3 linked regions of the Homo sapiens genome follow. The protein of the gene in region 1 interacts with the protein of each later gene in a biochemical or structural test. Each region holds a gene or a part of one and is shown on either strand. Other genes may lie near its edges.

Region 1 (7,037 bases):
TGCACAGGCTGGAGTGCACTGGCGAGATCATAGCTCACTGCCACCTCGAACTCCTGGGCTCAAGGGATCCACCTGCCTCAGCCTCCCAAGTGGCTGCAAATACAGGCATGTGCTACCATGCTTAGCCATTTTATTTTATTTATATTTTATTTTTATTATTATTATTATCTTCTAAAGACAAGGTCTCACCAGCTTGCTCAGGCTGGTTTTGAACTCCTGGGCTCAGGTGATCTGCCCACCTCAGCCTCTCAAAGTGCTGGGATTCCACATCCCGCTGCAGCTCTGATTCTTGATTAGTTTCCCCGTCACACACATGCACACAAACACACACGCACATCACTACCACCGTCACCACCACCACCAGCAACAAAAACTATACTTTATCCCTGTCATGGGGGCAAGAACAACATTCTAGCTTCTTTCCAGGGCAATAGTTCATAGGTCCTGGAGCCTGTTAGACCACCTTCCTTTCTGTCCCTATCCTTACACCAACTTCAAGCAAATGGACAAATGGATCTCTACTTCTCTGCGAAGCATCTCACTGTCCCCTACCCTTCCCTGTTTGTGTCTGCCTCTCCAGAATCATACAGGGGCAATGGCAGTGGGGAGAGAATTTGGGCATGAAGTTGGAGAAATAAGGTTAAATGTCCCAAACAACCAGTCTCCATGGCACTACGATTTGAAATTTACCAAAAGAGCAAAGATGAAGAGTGTGATCTATATACATAATGGAATACTGCTCAGCCATAGAAAAGAATGAAGTCACATCTTTGAAGCCACACAGATGGAACTGGAGGCCATTACCTTAAGTGAAACAACTCAGAAACAGAGTCAAATACCACACGTTCTCACTTACAAGTGGGAGCTAAACAAAGGGTAACATCCATAGAGCATGGAATGATAGACACTAGAGCCTCAGAAGGGTGGGAGGGTGGGAGCCAGGTGAGGGCTGGAAAATTATTTATTGGGTACAATGTTCACTATTTGGGTAAGAGTTACACTAAGGCCGGGCACGGTGGCTCACGCCTGTAATCCCAGCACTTTGGGAGGCCGAGGCGGGTGGATCACGAGGTCAGGAGTTTGAGACCAGCCTAGCCAATACGGTGAAACCTTGTCCCTACTAAAAATACAAAAATCAGCTGGGCGTGGTGGCCCATGCCTGTAATCCCAACTACTCGAAGAATTGCTTGAACCCAGGAGGTGGATGTTGCAGTGAGCCGAGATCACTCCACTGTACTCCAGCCTGGGCAACACGGCGAGAGTCCATCTCAAAAAAAAAGGGGTAGTTACAGTAAAAGCCCAGACACTACCACTGTGCAGTAACATATCCATGAAACAAAGCTGCTCTTGCGCCCCCTACATCTACAAAAATAAATACATAAAGTAAAAAATAAAGAGCAGAGCAGACAGAAAGCATTTAAGCCACCGAACAGCACAATCGAATCAGAATTTTCTAAAGGACCATCTTACTTTTGTGCAGAGAATGGTCGGGTGAGGGAAAAAGGCAGACACAGGGAGACCAAAGAGCCAACATTCATTCAGTGCGTGCTTTTGACCACTGATGGGTACTAAGATGTCTGTCCAGGCGTGGCAAAGATGACAGCAAGACAAACAAACGCAAACCCCATCCCCGGGGAGCTGATGGTCTAGGAGGTCACTGCGTGTCCAGGCAAGTGGTGACAGTTGCTGGACCTGGGCTGGTGGGGTGAGGACGAGGAAAAGTGGAAAACAGCTCGGGTAGGAGGAAAAATTGATAAGACTGGTGACAAGGTGAGTGTGTTGAGCCGGAGAGGGAGGTAGCAAAATGTCCTAGAGTGGCGGACTTTAACACTTGCTGTGCAGCTCCTCAAAAATGCAGACGCCTGCATGCGTCCACAGAGCAGGGAATGAAACAGAGCTAGTGAGGCGGCCCAGGCACCAGCGCGGTGGGGCGTGTGAATCTGATTCATGGTGTGGGAGAAAGCAAGCACATTTTTTATTATTATTATTATTATTATTATTTTGAAATGGAATCTCGCTCTGTCACCCAGGCTGGAGTGCAATGGCACGATCTCGGCTCACTGCCATCTCCGCCTCCCGGGTACACACAGTTCTCCTGCCTCAGCCTCCCGAGTAGCTGGGACTACAGGTGTGAGCAAGCACATTATTAATAAAGTCACAGGAGATTCCCTGTGACATTTCAACCCATACAAAGCATTCTGACCAGGCTGGGCAACGTGATGAGACCACATCTCTACAAAAAAAATACAAAAATTAGCCAGCATGGTGGTGCATGCCTGTAGTCCCAGCTACTCGGGGGAGCTGAGGTGGGAGGATTGCTTGAGCCTGGGAGGTCGAGGCTGCAGTAAGCTGTGATCACACACTCCAGCCTGGGTGACAGAGAGAGGTCCTGTCTCAAAGAAAAAAAAAAAAAGTATTTTCATAGTTTTTAGGTGAGGTTGCCATTGTTGTAAATGGCAAATTCTCCAACTCTCATCTATGAACATGGCCCATGAGGAAATGGAATATATCGAGCATCATGGTTGTTTCAAGAAATGACTTTTTTTTTAGTTCCTCATTCATTCTTCCCCACACAAAACTTCCCCAGCTGGCCTCCAACCCATTCTACCTTCTCACTTGTTCTGGGCTGAACTGTGCCCCCCCAAAAATTTACATGTTGAAGCCCTAATCCTCAAGACCTCATAATGTGGCTGTTTTGGGAAATGGGGTCTTTAAAGGAGTGACTAGATTAACATTAGGTCTTGTGTAGTCATGCCTGACTGTGCCTAATCCATCAGGACTGCTGTCCCTGTAAGAAGAGGAGACTAGGCCACTCTTCCCCCCAAGGCAAGATGGCATCAGTACACAGGGAGAAGGGGGCATCTACAAACCAAGGAGGGCGGCCTCAGAAGAAACCAACCCTGCTGACACCTTGATCTTAGACTTTCGGCCTCAGAACTGCAAGAAAATGAATTTTTGTTGTTGAAGCCATTCAGTCTGTGGCACTTTGTTACAGCAGAAACCACACCACCGGCCGGGTGCGGTGGCTCATGCCTGTAATCCCAGCATTTTGGGAGGCCGAGGCGGGCGGATCACCTGAGGTCAGGACTTCGAGACTAGCCTGGACAACATGATGAAACCCCATCTCTACTAAAAATACAAAAAATTAGCTGGGTATGGTGGTGGGTGCCTGTAATCCCAGCTACTCAGGAGGCTGAGGCAGGAGAATCACTTGAACCCAGGAGGCAGAGATTGCAGTGAGCCGAGGTCACGGCATTGCACTCCAGCCTGGGCAATAAGAGCAAAACTCTGCCTCAAAAAAAGAAAAAAAGAAAAAGAAAAGAAAGAAACCACACCAGCAACCTGGTCCTGAAGATCTTTCTCCAGTCTGTTTCTCTCTCTCTCTCTCATATGAACTTGCACTCACACAGATCACATGCACGGGGACTCACCACAATCTCCGAATGTTACAGCCAGGATGCTGGAGCGTTTCACACAACACTCTCATCCCTGGGTCCCCCAGAGAATTGTCACTGAGGTCCAATTCAGTTAGACTCTGGCTGGTGCTCAGAACTGAAAAGAGGCCCCGGCAAAAACTGGAAGTGAGGTGGCTGTTCACCAATCTAGGAATTAGAAGGAAGACAGACAGAAAAGAAATCAGCCTCGAATAATAACTAACTGGAGCTGGGGGCCGGGGTGCCTGGCACCAGTTCAGAGAAATGCCTTCCGGGGATTAAGAAATGGGTCACGAAACCAAAAATTGTTCCCAGAGAAATGAAGAGGGCTGGATGAGCCTTGGTAAAAGCAGTTCTGCCTCCTCTCGGACGGAGAGCATGAGCCTGTGACTGTGGCGGACTGTGGCACCCTACAGCCTGCTCCCCAGTGTCCTCCTCTCGCCCTTACCAGTCCACTGTCCCAACATGGCCCTGAACGTTCTGTGCTGGGTGATCAGAGGGCAGTCCTCACTCCTGGCTACACAACAGCATCAGGAGTGCTCACAAAAATCCTCAGGCCAGGCTGGGCATGGTGGCTCACACCTGTAATCCCAGCACTTTGGGAGGCCGAGGCGGGCAGATCACCTGAGGTCAGGAGTTCAAGATCAGCCTGGCCAACATGGTGAAACCCTCTCTCTACTAAAAATACAAAAATTAATTGGGTGTGGTGGCACGAGCCTGTCATCCCAGCTATTAGGGAGGCTGAGGCAGGAGAATCACTTGAACCTGGGAGGTGGAAGTTGCAGTGAGCCAAGATCATGCCACAGCACTCCAGCCTGGGCAACAGAGCAAGACTTCATCTCAAAAAAAAAAAAAAGAAAAAGAAAATCGCAAGCCCAGGCCACATCCATGGAAATAAAATCAGAAGCTCTGAGGTGGAACTAGATGAATTTTTTAAATTTTTTTTCAGATGAAACCCAAGCTGGAATGCAGTGCCATGATCATAGCTCACTGCAGCCTCAAACTCCTGGGCTCAAGCAATCCTCTTGCCTCAGCCTCCCGAGTAGCTGAGGTTACAGGCACGAGTCACTGTGTCCAGCTATATGGATCTTTTTTATTTAAAAAAAGCCAGGTGGCTCCAACATGCAGTCACATTTTTGCTTTTGTTTTTCTGTAGAGAGGTGCTCTCACTTTGCTGCTCAGGTAGGACTTGAATTCCTGGCTTCAAGCAATCCCCCCATCTTGGCCTCCCAAAACCTAGGATTACAGGCAAGAGCCACTGCACCCACACATGCAGTCACCTTTGAATCACCTGTAGCTCTCATTCAAATGCAAAGTCTAGCTCTCTAGGTCTAAGATTGGGTCCACAATCCTGCATTTCTAATAGATGCTCAGGCTTCTGGTTCTCAGAAGGGACTGGAACATACAAAGCAAGCTCCTGCCCTCAGAGTAAGGCAGCTGCCATCTAGAAAGATGGGTGCTGAGCCCCCTACCAGGGCTCCAGTCAGAGTCTGTCCTCAGAGTAAGGCAGGTGCCATCTAGAGGGATGGGTGCTGAGCCCCCTACCAGGGCTCCCGTCAGAGTCTGTCCTCAGAGTAAGGCAGGTGCCATCTAGAGGGATGGGTGCTGAGCCCCCTACCAGGGTTCCAGTCAGAGTCTGTCCTGAGGAAGGAAGGTGCTATCTAGAGAAATGGGTGCTGAGCCTCCTACCGGGGCTTCAGTGAGAGTCTGTCCTCAGAGGAAGGAAGGTGCTATCTAGAGAAATGGGTGCTGAGCCCCCTGCCAGGGCTCCAATCAGAGTCTGTCCTCAGAGGAAGGAAGGTGCTATCTAGAGAAATGGTTGCTGAGCCTCCTACCGGGGCTTCAGTGAGAGTCTGTCCTCAGAGTAAGGCAGGTGCCATCTAGAGGGATGGGTGCTGAGCCCCCTGCCAGGGCTCCAATCAGAGTCTGTCCTCAGAGGAAGGAAGGTGCTATCTAGAGAAATGGGTGCTGAGCCTCCTACCGGGGCTTCAGTGAGAGTCTGTCCTCAGAGGAAGGAAGGTGCTATCTAGAGAAATGGGTGCTGAGCCCCCTGCCAGGGCTCCAATCAGAGTCTGTCCTCAGAGGAAGGAAGGTGCTATCTAGAGAAATGGGTGCTGAGCCTCCTACCGGGGCTTCAGTGAGAGTCTGTCCTCAGAGTAAGGCAGGTGCCATCTAGAGGGATGGGTGCTGAGCCCCCTACCAGGGCTCCAGTCAGAATCTGTCCTCAGAGGAAGGAAGGTGCTATCTAGAGAAATGGGTGCTGAGCCTCCTACCGGGGCTTCAGTGAGAGTGTGCAAACCTTCCTCACAGATGTGTGATCTTCATAAGGTCTCCCTGCCCTCTCCACCTTCCACCTCACTCTTAATGAGTAGTTCTGCCTACTTTTCTCTCTGTCTTACTCTTCTTCTCCCATTTCTATGGTCTGAATGTTTGTGTGCCCCAAAATCCATACGCTGAAATCCTAACCCTCAACATGACGTATCAGGCGATGGGGCCTTTGAGGTGTGGTTAAGTTATGAGGGTGGAGCCCTCAGGAGTGGGATTGCTGTCCTTAGGAAAGGGACCCCAGAGAGCTGCCTTGCCTCTTCACCATGTAAGGACACAGTGAGAAGGCACCATCGACCAGGGAACAGGCCCTCACCAAACACCAGATCTGCCAGAGCCTGGATCATGGACTTCCCAGCCTCCAGAACCGTAAGGTGAACCTTCCTTTTGCTTATAAGCCAACCAGCCTGCAGTGTTTTGTTATGGCAACCTGATGAATGAAGACAACTGTCTTTTTTCCAGTCACTCGGAACTGTTTGCTGCCGTAGAAACCGTACCCTGCTTTCCCACACCTGCCCTCTCTCTCAACACCGTAAGCCCCCAGCCTGGCTGCCCCTTTCCTTCTCTCACTCTCTCACTGCCCATCCTCCGGAAGCTGGCTGAGCGGGGACACCCACCCGTGCCCCGCTGGTGAACAGGTTCGTCCCCTTGTGCTTTGGATACTCTGCAAGTTTCCTTGTCAGAGCCCATGACCCCCTCCCCGACATCTGCACTTGTTTCCGGACTGTCCCACAGCCAGACCTCAAGTCCCTGTGACCAGGACCTGGGTCTTCACCACCACTGCGGCCCTGTGGGCAGTCAGTCCTTCATGGCCAAACCATGACTAGGAAGGTGGTCCTGGTCATGGTAATGTCAACGGATCAAGAAAGCTGAAACTCATTGTTGCCTGTGGAAGGGCCAAGCCTCCTGTTTCCCTTAATTTTGCCCCACGTCAAGTGTCTTCTATCCAGGCTAAACTCACACATCACAGGGTGGCCACCTTCCTACAACCACTGTGGGTGGTCCTTCTGCAGGAGGCACTGAACGATAAACCCAAAAGGGACTCAGAAGTCAGGTGACTCAACCACTTCATTGCACAGACTTGGCCACTAGCTTCCAACCACCCAGCAAGTGTGTGAACAGACCCGAAAACGGGGTTTTGGCAATGCCCAGTGCAGAGCAACATGGGGGCCTAGAAAGAGGGTCTCCACATTTCTGCTCTATTTCCCTTGATTTACCTTCATCATGTTTTTTTCCAAGGAAACTGTGTCTCTCTCCACTGTCACCTGCACACACTTT
Region 2 (3,268 bases), on another chromosome or scaffold:
CAGGGCCCTCCCTGATGGGCCTCCCCGCCGTTCTGTGTGGTGGAATCTCACAGTCAACTTTGACCTGTGCACATCCACTTTTTTTTTTGAGATAGGATCTTGCTCTGTCACCCAGCTGGGAGTGCAGTGGTGCCATCACAGCTCATTTCAGCCTCGACCTCCCAGGCTCAAGCAATCTTCCTGCCCCAGCCTCCCAAGTAGCTGGGACTACAGGTGCATACCACCACACCCGGCTAATGTTTTGATTTCTGCAGAGCTAAAGTCTTACTATGTTGTCCAGGCTGGTCTCAAACTCTGGGCTCAAGAGATCCTCCTGCCTTGGGCTCCCAAACTGCTGGGATTACAGGCATGAGCCACTGCACCCGGCCAACACATTCACTTTTTTGGGACATGGCAGGGACTTAATGTTTTAGAAAACATTTAGCTACCCCTTTGACAATGCTGCTTGACACTATTTGACAGTGTGACTTACCACATCCTAATAACTTCCATGAAAATCATCACAAAGCAAATTTTAAATTTTTATTAAAAATCACAGTTTTTAAAAATGTCCAGTGACACAATGTAGCTCTTCTGAAATGAATGGAAAACACAACACACTGCTAACCAGTGGAGGGAGCTCTCTGCAGGGCTGGGAGACCTGACAATGCAGCTGTAGCCTCTGCAAGTGAAAATCCAGGCCGACTTGCAGTCATTGGACTGATGTCCAAGTGCAATCACCATACAGCAGCTACAGGCAGGGCTGGCTGATAGGGAGTATGGGAGAAGGACACGCTCAGATGAAAACATGCATGCAACGATTTTCACCACTGAACACACTGTTTTCTGTGATAGAAACTGTCGGCCCTGCTGGGGGACAAGATATTCACGGCCTCACTAGCCAGTGTGATGCCACCAGGGCAGCCTGCCCCTGATGCTCCTTTGTTACCTGCTAAAGAAGGACCATAAGGTAAAAGGCACCTTACCTTATGGAGTGAGCCCAGACCCCAGGGAAAAGCTTGGGTAGAACAATCCAAGGGGCAGCCTGGGTATGAGAATCCAGCCCAAGCTAGCTGCTCTAGAAGCCTGGAGGCCTTTCCCAGCTTCCCAAATGTAGCCCTTTTCACATGACCAATCCTTCAATTAGGTTACCTTTCTCTATTTGCCCTCCTTGGTGGCTACAGGGGAAAGGATAATTATTCCTGACCACAAGACACATTTTCACTAGAAAAGACTTCCTCGTGCTGGCCACAGTGGGAATTCTGCACACAGGTGCCTGCTCCACCAAGCAGAGAGGCTCAGGAGATTGTCCAGGGACAAGGAGACCTGGCCGGACCTCTGCAGGGAGGTGAGGCCCCTGCCCCCATCTTGTCCCATCACATTCTGGATGTTTGGCATCCCCAGGCTCCTGGGAGGGGAGAAGTGCTGATAAAAAGGCCAAAAATCACACAGAAAGAAGACAGAAAACTCCACGCACTTCCTACATAGGTGCTACCGTATTCCTACGAGCACGGGGCCTGTGTTGAAGACTCCCTCTGGAAGTTACAGAAGGAAGCCACCAAGAGTTCAGCCTCACAGCCTCTTTCTCAGATGCAGTCACCACTTTACCAAACTTGGCACATCCAACCACTCCTTTCATAATTTTACACCTGTTTGTGGCCTGGCTGACAGATATTTTGTCATTGATCTTTCTAATTTCAGGGATTCTAAATGTGTTTTGAGAATCTGCTCAGCACTCAGGGATTCTGTCTTTAAAAATATGATTAAACCACCAGATAGTGTGATTTCAGAAAGTGTGCGTGGCTACCAAAAACTTCTAAACACAAGTTATATGAGTGACTCCTGTCTTCTGTGGCTGAGCTTGGGTACTGATTGTCTTTCTCCATGCCTTGCATCCCCTGTTAGAGGAGGGCCTGCTGTCCATGGCTGTCCATGCACTTTAAAATGTCTCAGGTTTAGCTGAAGACCAGATGGGTCCAAGTTTATTTATATCTGCTGGCATAAGAATGATGGCTAAATTACCTCTTTAAGTTGTTTTTTTGTTTGTTTGTTTTGACAGAGTCTCGCTGTGATGCCCAAGCTGGAGTGCAGTGGCATGATCTTGGCTCACTGCGACCTCCGTTTCCTGGGTTCAAGCGATTCTCCTGCCTCAGCCTCCCGAGTAGCTGGGACTACAGACACATGCCACCATGCCCGGCTAATTTTTGTATTTTTAGTAGAGATGGGGTTTTACCATATTGGCCAGGCTAGTCTCAAACTCCTTACCTCAAGTGATCCACCCGCCTCGGCCTCCTAAAGTGCTGAGATGTCTCTTTAACTTTCAAGAGGTACAGCAAAACTGAAATCAATGGGTGATGACTTCTTAAAGATCAAACATGAAGATGAGGATTAGTTAAGACCAGAAAATCATTCTCCGATCTTGTATCTTCAACTCAAATTCACACTCCAAAAGGCCTGTTTGTGGTGAGGCTCAGGGTCTTTGGCTTGTTCTGAATTAATACTTTCTTTGGAAACTCTTTAGATGGCTTTGATCCCTGTGCTGCCCCCCATTGCAGACACAGAAAGCGACAGGGGATTCTGGCGGCACCCTCTCTGTGGAGGAGAGGAAGGTGTGGACCACGTTCAGAGGAAGGCAGCCTGAAGCTGTCCTCAGTGAGATGCTGGGGGATGGGCCTCTTGCCCCTGCTGTGCAGCCTCCATGCAGGGCTTTATTTACCAGTCACCAGGTCTTCAAGACAGTCTGCAGGAGAGAGGATTTCAGGGGGAAAGTAAGCCAAGCCAATTCATTCTCATGGTCCCCTTTTATCACAAACATGTAAGTCTTCCATCTCATAACAGAGACAGCAAAAGCAGTATCCAGGCCTTTTTTTTTTTTCTTTCTTTCTTTCCTTAACTGGCTACATGCTTAGAAACTGCACTGGTCAAACTTGATTTTCTTTTTAAAGCCTCAAAACATTTTTATTGTCAGGAAAGCTTTTCAGTGGCCAGGGATCAGTCTCATGGCCGTAGAAGCAGCCAAATTCCTCTGCCTTTGCCTTCCCTTCAGGAGTCACATGCTAAGGCATCCTTGGGCATTTGGAAAAGGCCGCTTGGGGTGAGAGTGCTCTAGGCCACTCTGCAATGTCCCTGGGCCCGATGAGTAACAAATGCACCCCGGGACCCAGAGAAGTGGAAAGACATGAAAGGGATTTGGAAACAGATCGTAAAAATAACCTGTATGAAAATCACACAGACAAGAAAACAAACAAATCCAGCTAGCCCCTTGGATCCTGCCATCCGTCTTTTCTCC
Region 3 (7,037 bases), on another chromosome or scaffold:
TCACCATGTCGGGCAGGCTGGTCTCTAACTCCTGACCTCAAGCGATCTGCCCGCCTCGGCCTCCCAAAGTGCTGGGATTACAGGCGTGAGCCACCGTACCTGGGCGGATTACCTCAATTCTTACTCTCTTCCAACTAAGAGTTTGAGCCACATGTAATCTATTCCCCCCCCTTTTTCAAGACCAGTTCTGGGTTGTGCCTAAGGAACCCTACCCTAGTTTAGGACTGCTACCACTTGATCAGACTCCATGACTATGTGATATTTTAATTGCTTTTTATTTGGTACTGTACAAAGTTGGAGAGTTCCAGAAGGCACTGACAGCCACTTATATCTAATATGAATTATAACTATTCTGGAAAAGTTACATTCTACTTTGAGTATGATTCAACTCTCTATCCACTCCAAACTAAAATCACCTATTTACACTACAAATAGAAAAATGCCAAATTAGTCCCAAATAAATCAGTTTCTGAAACCTTTTATTCATGTTAGCTAGATCTGCTTTACTTTAGTATTTATCAGAATGAATTTGTTAGGTAAATTTAACCAATTTCCCTCACAGAGTTTATAATCTTAAAATACCTTAAAAACTGACCTGAAAAGAATGCGGAATAGCTGCCTCAGATACATGTAATCTGGGGCTTCCTCAAAGCGTAGCCCACGACAATAGTTTAAGTACATCGCAAATTCTGCAGGAAACCCCTATAGGTTCAAGGGTTAAAACAAAGTTAAAAACAAACATTTCAAGATAGAAAAATAAATGCATTTAAGTATAAGCAAAAAGATATTTTTGGGCGGGATATTTTACCATTTCATAGGAAGATATGAGAGCTAAAATGATGGCTTGGTCTCCTCATAAATTTAAATAAAATTTCATGACCCTACCTACCCTATTATGTACAATATTAGTAGAAGAAATACATATGTTCTTCCCATATAGTGCTTTTCCTATACAGTACTATGTTCTTAAATAACTTACATAGCCCACTTGTTAAAACCTGTCATTTTATCAAAGTCGCGCCTCTTCGTGAACTTTTTTTTTTTTTAAAGACAGGGTCTCAATCTGTCTCCCAGGCTGGAGTGCAGTAGTGTAATCTCAGCTTACTGCAACCTCCACCTCCCAGGCTTCAAGCGATCCTCCAACCTCAGCTTCCTGAGTAGCTGGGACTACAGACACGAGCTACCACGCCCAGCTAATTTTTTGTATTTTTTAGTAGAGACAGGGTTTTGTCAGATTGCCAAGGATGGTCTCAAATTCCCGAGCTCAAGAGATCTGCCCCCCTTGGCCTCCTTGGTCTCCCACAGTGCTGGGATTACAGGTGTGAGCCACCATGCCCAGCCTTCAGAAGTTTCTAAATGGTTGCATGATATTCTACCTAGTATATACATCATTAACTTGTTCTTTATAATTGAACATTTGGATGTATTCTAATTTTTCTCTATTATTAATAATACTGCTAAGTACATCTGTGGGCATAGAATTTTTCCATTTAGCTCCTTAGGAAAGATTCTCAACAATGTATAAACATTTTCAAGGCTCTAGGTATCAGTCACCAAAAGGATTTCCCCAATCAGCAATGTGGAAATACAAAATATTAAAAGAGCACAAACCTCTATATCTCCTCTCCTAGAGTAAATGCCAATGTGGAGAGTGGTAAAGTTAAAGGAGGCAGTCTCTTTCTACAACCTTATGATTGTAGAGTTAAAGTTACAATCTCTTTCTACAACCTTATGAGAAATTTCTCATGTCCTGGAGTTAGGAAGGATAGAATGGAAATGCTTGCAACATTTTTTATTGATTGCACCGATATAAATTGGGTGACCACTTGAAACATATACATATGTTAAAAGATGTAAAATAATACATATTATACATCTTTCTAAAACTCAACATTTATATACATTTATGGCCCGTGTTAATGGTAAACAGTATGACAATGAGACTGAAAACAATCTCACCACTTTATAATTACTATTTTAACTCTCACTGATTTCTTCCCTCAACTATTTATTTGTATACTGCTTTGTACTTAATTTCAGGTATACAATTCTTTCTTGTCTGAAAGACCATATGGCCTTCTTTTTATGGATGAGATCATGGTTATTCATCATGACACAAATACCTCTCTATTCTAAACTCAATTGCCTTTCTATGAAGTTGAAAATTTCAGAAAAAATGAGTGTGATTCAAACTGTCTTCTGTATTCCTGTATTGTTGGACAGCTGCTATTTTGGATTGCTCCAATCTGTCTGCATGTTTCCCTGTTCCTTAATGTACTAATTGTTGATAACCTTTCTTTTCCAGCACTAGTTTAGGGTAAGGAGAATATTTCTTACTTTTTCTTATAGATTAATGAGGTTCTATTGAAAATGTTTACCTGCCCTGTTTATTTACCCCTAGTTTTCAACAGATTAGAGAGCCCTAACAAACCAGAAACATAAAACACTTATTTTACTTACTTAAAACGTTTATTTAACTTATTTTTTATTATTTTACTTATTTTTGTTGTTGTTGAGACAGGGTCTCACTCTGTCACCCAAGCTGGACTGCAGTGGTGCAATCTTGGCTCACTGCAGCCTCGACCTCCTGGGCTCAAGCATCCTGCCCCAGCATCCCCAAGAAGCTGAGATTACAGGCATGCGTCACCATGCCAGGCTAATTTTTGCATTTTTTGTAGCGATGGGGTTTCACCATGTTGCCTAGACTGGTCTGGAACTCCCGGGCTCAAGCGATCCACCCTCCTTCAGCCTACCAAGTGGCTCCTCAACTGTGAGCCACTGTGCCTAGCAAAACACTTATTTAAAAAGACCCCTATGTTAAAAGTCCTTGTTAAAGATATTTAGAATAATAAAAATGTAAATTTAAAATGGTGAATAGCTACCTAATTCAATGTTACAAGTTCCAGAGCTGGCAAATAAAATGTTCCTTTTTCTTCCTGGATCATTCATTCATTCACTCATTTGAGACAGAGTCTTACTCTGTTACCTAGGCTGGAGTGCAGTGGCACAATCTCAGATCCTTGCAAGACAGCCAAGATTCACCACTGCAATTGGAGCCTCCCGGGCTCAAGTGATCCTCCTGCCTCAGGCTCCTGAGTAGCTGGGACCACAGACGTGTATCACTGCACCCAGCTAATTTTTGTATTTTTGGTAGATAAGGTATTTCACCATGTTGCCCAGGCTGGTCTTGTGGAACTTCTGGGCTCAAGTGATCCGCCCACCTCGGCCTTCTAAAGTGCTGGGATTGCAGGCTTGAGCCACTGTGCCCAGCCGGATCATTTATCTATTAAGGTAGAAATGGGGTTTCCCTATGTTGCCCAGGCTGGTCTTGAACTCCTGGGCTCATGTGACCTACTGCCTTGGCCTCCCAAAGTGCTGGGATTACAGGTGTGAGCCATTGTGCCTGGCTTCATTTATATTTTTTTAATATTCATCATGCATACTTACCTTACATAAAACTTCAACAGGCGTGGACATCTTCTTTTCACTAATCTTTTCATATTTTTGTTTCTTTGTTGCAGCCTGTGGAAAAGAATAAAATAAAAAAGATATACTCAGTGCTACTGAGAAGAACCATGGTAGTTTAACGCACTAGACATATAAACATATACCTGTGAGATTCAAGAGAAATTTTAACCCAGAATTTAAAAAATCAAAGTATAATACATCTAAAAAAAATTTTTCCCAAACTGTTAACTTCTGATGTAAGTTTCTTCTCTAAGAATTTAATTTTAGCTATAGGGAAAGGGTGAGTCTAATAGGAATATATGGATATTAGATTTAAGTAAAAATGGCTGGGGCCAAAATTGAAAAGCATTTTCTTTCTTTCTATATATTTTTTTAAGGAGATGGGGTCTCACTATGTTGCCCAGGCTGGAGTGCAGTAGCCATTCACAGGCTCAGCAGTAATTCCCTGTGGCCTCCAACTCCTGGCCTCAAGCAATCCTCCTGATTCAGCCTATCAAGTAGCTGGGACTACAGGTGTGCATCATCATACCCAGCTGAAAAGCATTTTCTTTCCTTTTTCCTTTTCTTTGTTTTTTTGTTTGTTTGTTTGTTTTTTTGAGACAAGGTCTCCCTCGGTTGCCCAGGCTGGAGTGCAGTGGCTCGATTATAGCTCGCTGTAGCCTCGAACTCCTGGGCTCAAAGCAATCCTCCCGGCTCAGCCTCCTGAGTAATTGGGGCTACAGGCATGTGACACTACACCCTGCTATTTTTTTTTTTTAAAGTAGAGGTGAGGTCTTGCCATACTGACCAGGCTGGTCTTGAACTCCTGGGCTCAAGTGATCCGCCTGGCTGGGCCTCCCAAAGTGTTGAAGATTATAGGCATGAGCCACCATGCTCAGCCTGAAAAGCATTTTCTTAACCCATGTTCAACACAAGGGCAAAGGCATCAGATTAATACAAAAAAATTTGTTCATCAATTAGTGACATTAATAAATGGAGTTAACTGTATAAGTCACAATATTTTTCTAAACTAAAAATACTCATATTAGATAAAGCTACCCACCCAAGGACTGAGCACTACAACTAGCTCACAGCCACTCAATAAATACAGGTATTCCTTCAAAGAACTGGTAAGGTACCAAAATAGCCATTAAAATTTAGGACACACCAACAGTGGTGACTCACACCTGTAATCCCAGTTCTTTGGGATGCTGAAGCAGGAGAATCACTTGAGCCCAAGAGTTTGAGACCAGTCTGGGCAACACAGTGAGGCACTGTCTCTACAAAAAATAATTTAAAAATTAGCTGGGCATGGTGGCATGTTCCTGTAGTCCCAGCTACAGGTAGGAGGCTGAGATAGGAGGACTGCTTGAGCCCAGGAGGTTCAGGCTGCAGTGAGCCAGGCATTCCGGCTTGGGCAACAGAGCAAGACCATTCCCCATGCCCCCACCCCCACCCAAAATTAGGATACGGTGATTTATCATTAACATACACTCACAAAAGTAACAGTAAACTCCTAGCTAATAGAAACAAAATGTTAGGACATGTATTGCTGGATAAACAGGTCTTGCTGTACATAAAAACATACATTTTCAACATAATGGCAACACATCAAAATGAGAAAGTCTCCACCTTTCTTAGTCCATGCCCACTTCCATCTAGATAGAGCTAGTGGCTACCAGTGGGTACCAGCTTACTGTCTCTTAGAGGACACTGTTCTTCAGCTGAACTAAGTTCTTACTAAAATGATCTGGTTTCATTTTCCCAGATAAAAGGTAAAAAGTAAATTAAGGTTAATTCTTTATATCTCAGAAAAATCTCAGACTTAGAAGGGACCTTAAATCTTATCTTCTCCAATATATATTTTTATTCTAAAAAAGAGAGAGAAAAATCTGATAATGTGAGTCTGGTTTACCTTTAGCCCTTGCCATGGCAGGCTGGTTCTATTAAAATACATCAAAACATATCCTAATGATTCCATGTCATCTCGGCGACTAGAAAAGAGAACGTAATTTTATAAACTGGAACTATTATTATGAAAAAACATATGAAAGAAAGTCAAGTACCCAGAAGAAATGTTCCCAAATGAGGAGGGAACACTATTTGGTGTCTTACGCAAGAAGCTACTTATTTAAGGTGATTTTAAAAAGTTCATGTGTTACCTACCTCTAAACAAAACTTTTTCCATGGAATCCAAAATCTGACAAACAACTGTCTTACAATTTAATTTTAAAAGAACAGAAACGATTTGGCTAAACAACCCTCTAAATGAGCTTAATGAACCAAGCAGGATGACATTTCTATGTTTTGCAGAAACTCATTAAAAAAAAACTTCAGAAGTACTGAAAAGGAGTTACAACTTAAAACTAATTGAACATCTATATGAATGTATTCATGCATACATATCTATATACACATACATACAAATATATATTTAGATATATATATATTTAAGGATAGGTAATGCCTTGGCGTACAGAAAAAGTGACATTACAGTTTAACCTAGATCATTCAGATATTCATGGATATTTCTTAAGCCTGAAATTCTTGGTATGAGGTTCTTTAACCTGGAGGCATATCATTGTTTTTTCTACTTATTACTTCTATGCTAGTTTTAAGGAGCAAAAAGTGACTGTAAAAGATGAAAGGAACTCGAAACTCTAGAACTCATGTGAAGAAATAGGAAGAGAGCAGAGACTGTTACTTTTTTTACTTTAAACTAGATCCTATTAATTTATATATTTGAGTGAAGTATAACAGGAGATGGTCCATCAACCCACTTTTGGTTTATTAGGACACTGATAACATTTTCCTTTTAAAAATAAATAATGCATTCTTCCCAAACTCAGCGTGAATTACTAAAGTATAAAAAGCCCCAAATAGCTCTAAAAATATATGTACTATCTTCAGCTGCAAAAAGAAACGTCAACATTGCACTTATGCTTCTAACTTTCTATCACGCAGTATTTTCCCCCCAAGAGACAACCTTCAACAACAACAAAAAATCCAGAAGACCTCATTTAACGGTCTTCTCTACACTGGTTAAAGCAGCAGGTAAAATGATTAATAAGCATCCTTCAAATCCTCAGCCAAGAAACATCCTTAGACATTGTAAGAAACTAAAATATTTCAAAAACCCATTGATGGCTTCTGCTATGGCTATGATAAGCACATTCCATTTTCGAACTTACCTCTGCTCAATACCAAGATGTGCATTGATGCTAGCATATCGGGCAGTGCCAGTGAGGTTTTTATCTTCTCTGTATGGTATGTGTTGCCTTGTCCTGTTGTCTCTGTACTTTTTGGCCAAACCAAAATCAATAAGGAATAACTTTAAAAGAGAAATACAGAAACATTAGGTTTCCAACCTTGTTCAATTAAACTGCGTCTTATTCATTAAATGGTATCTATTCTATGCATTCAAATATATCAAAATAAAGTATCCTAAGTATTAATAGAACAGATAATGAACAGACTTAACACCCCCCCATAAGCTTTTACTAGTCTTCATCAATAAATCAAGTTAAAAAAAAAAAGTCTAGTAGTTTATCCTTGTCGTTTGCAGATTTCACAGGCCCATTTCATTACAT

What was found. Proteins that work in one complex are often made in the same cells at the same time.
Region 2: of the proteins of NLRP3 (region 1) and SYK, one has a biochemical effect on the other in vitro, tested with the Homo sapiens proteins (one study listed by IntAct).
Region 3: of the proteins of NLRP3 (region 1) and CSNK1A1, one has a biochemical effect on the other in vitro, tested with the Homo sapiens proteins (one study listed by BioGRID).

The regions. Positions count from the first base shown.
Region 1 is NC_000001.11:247,426,150-247,433,186, reverse strand, and holds part of NLRP3 (NACHT, LRR and PYD domains-containing protein 3), read right to left. Parts: intron 3,603-7,037; coding exon 3,432-3,602; intron 1-3,431. UniProt on the Homo sapiens protein: Sensor component of the NLRP3 inflammasome, which mediates inflammasome activation in response to defects in membrane integrity, leading to secretion of inflammatory cytokines IL1B and IL18 and pyroptosis.
Region 2 is NC_000009.12:90,895,790-90,899,057, reverse strand, and holds the end of SYK (tyrosine-protein kinase SYK), read right to left. Parts: 3' UTR 509-3,268; downstream 1-508. UniProt on the Homo sapiens protein: Non-receptor tyrosine kinase which mediates signal transduction downstream of a variety of transmembrane receptors including classical immunoreceptors like the B-cell receptor (BCR).
Region 3 is NC_000005.10:149,506,432-149,513,468, forward strand, and holds part of CSNK1A1 (casein kinase I isoform alpha), read right to left. Parts: intron 6,779-7,037; coding exon 6,639-6,778; intron 5,442-6,638; coding exon 5,363-5,441; intron 3,523-5,362; coding exon 3,448-3,522; intron 703-3,447; coding exon 596-702; intron 1-595.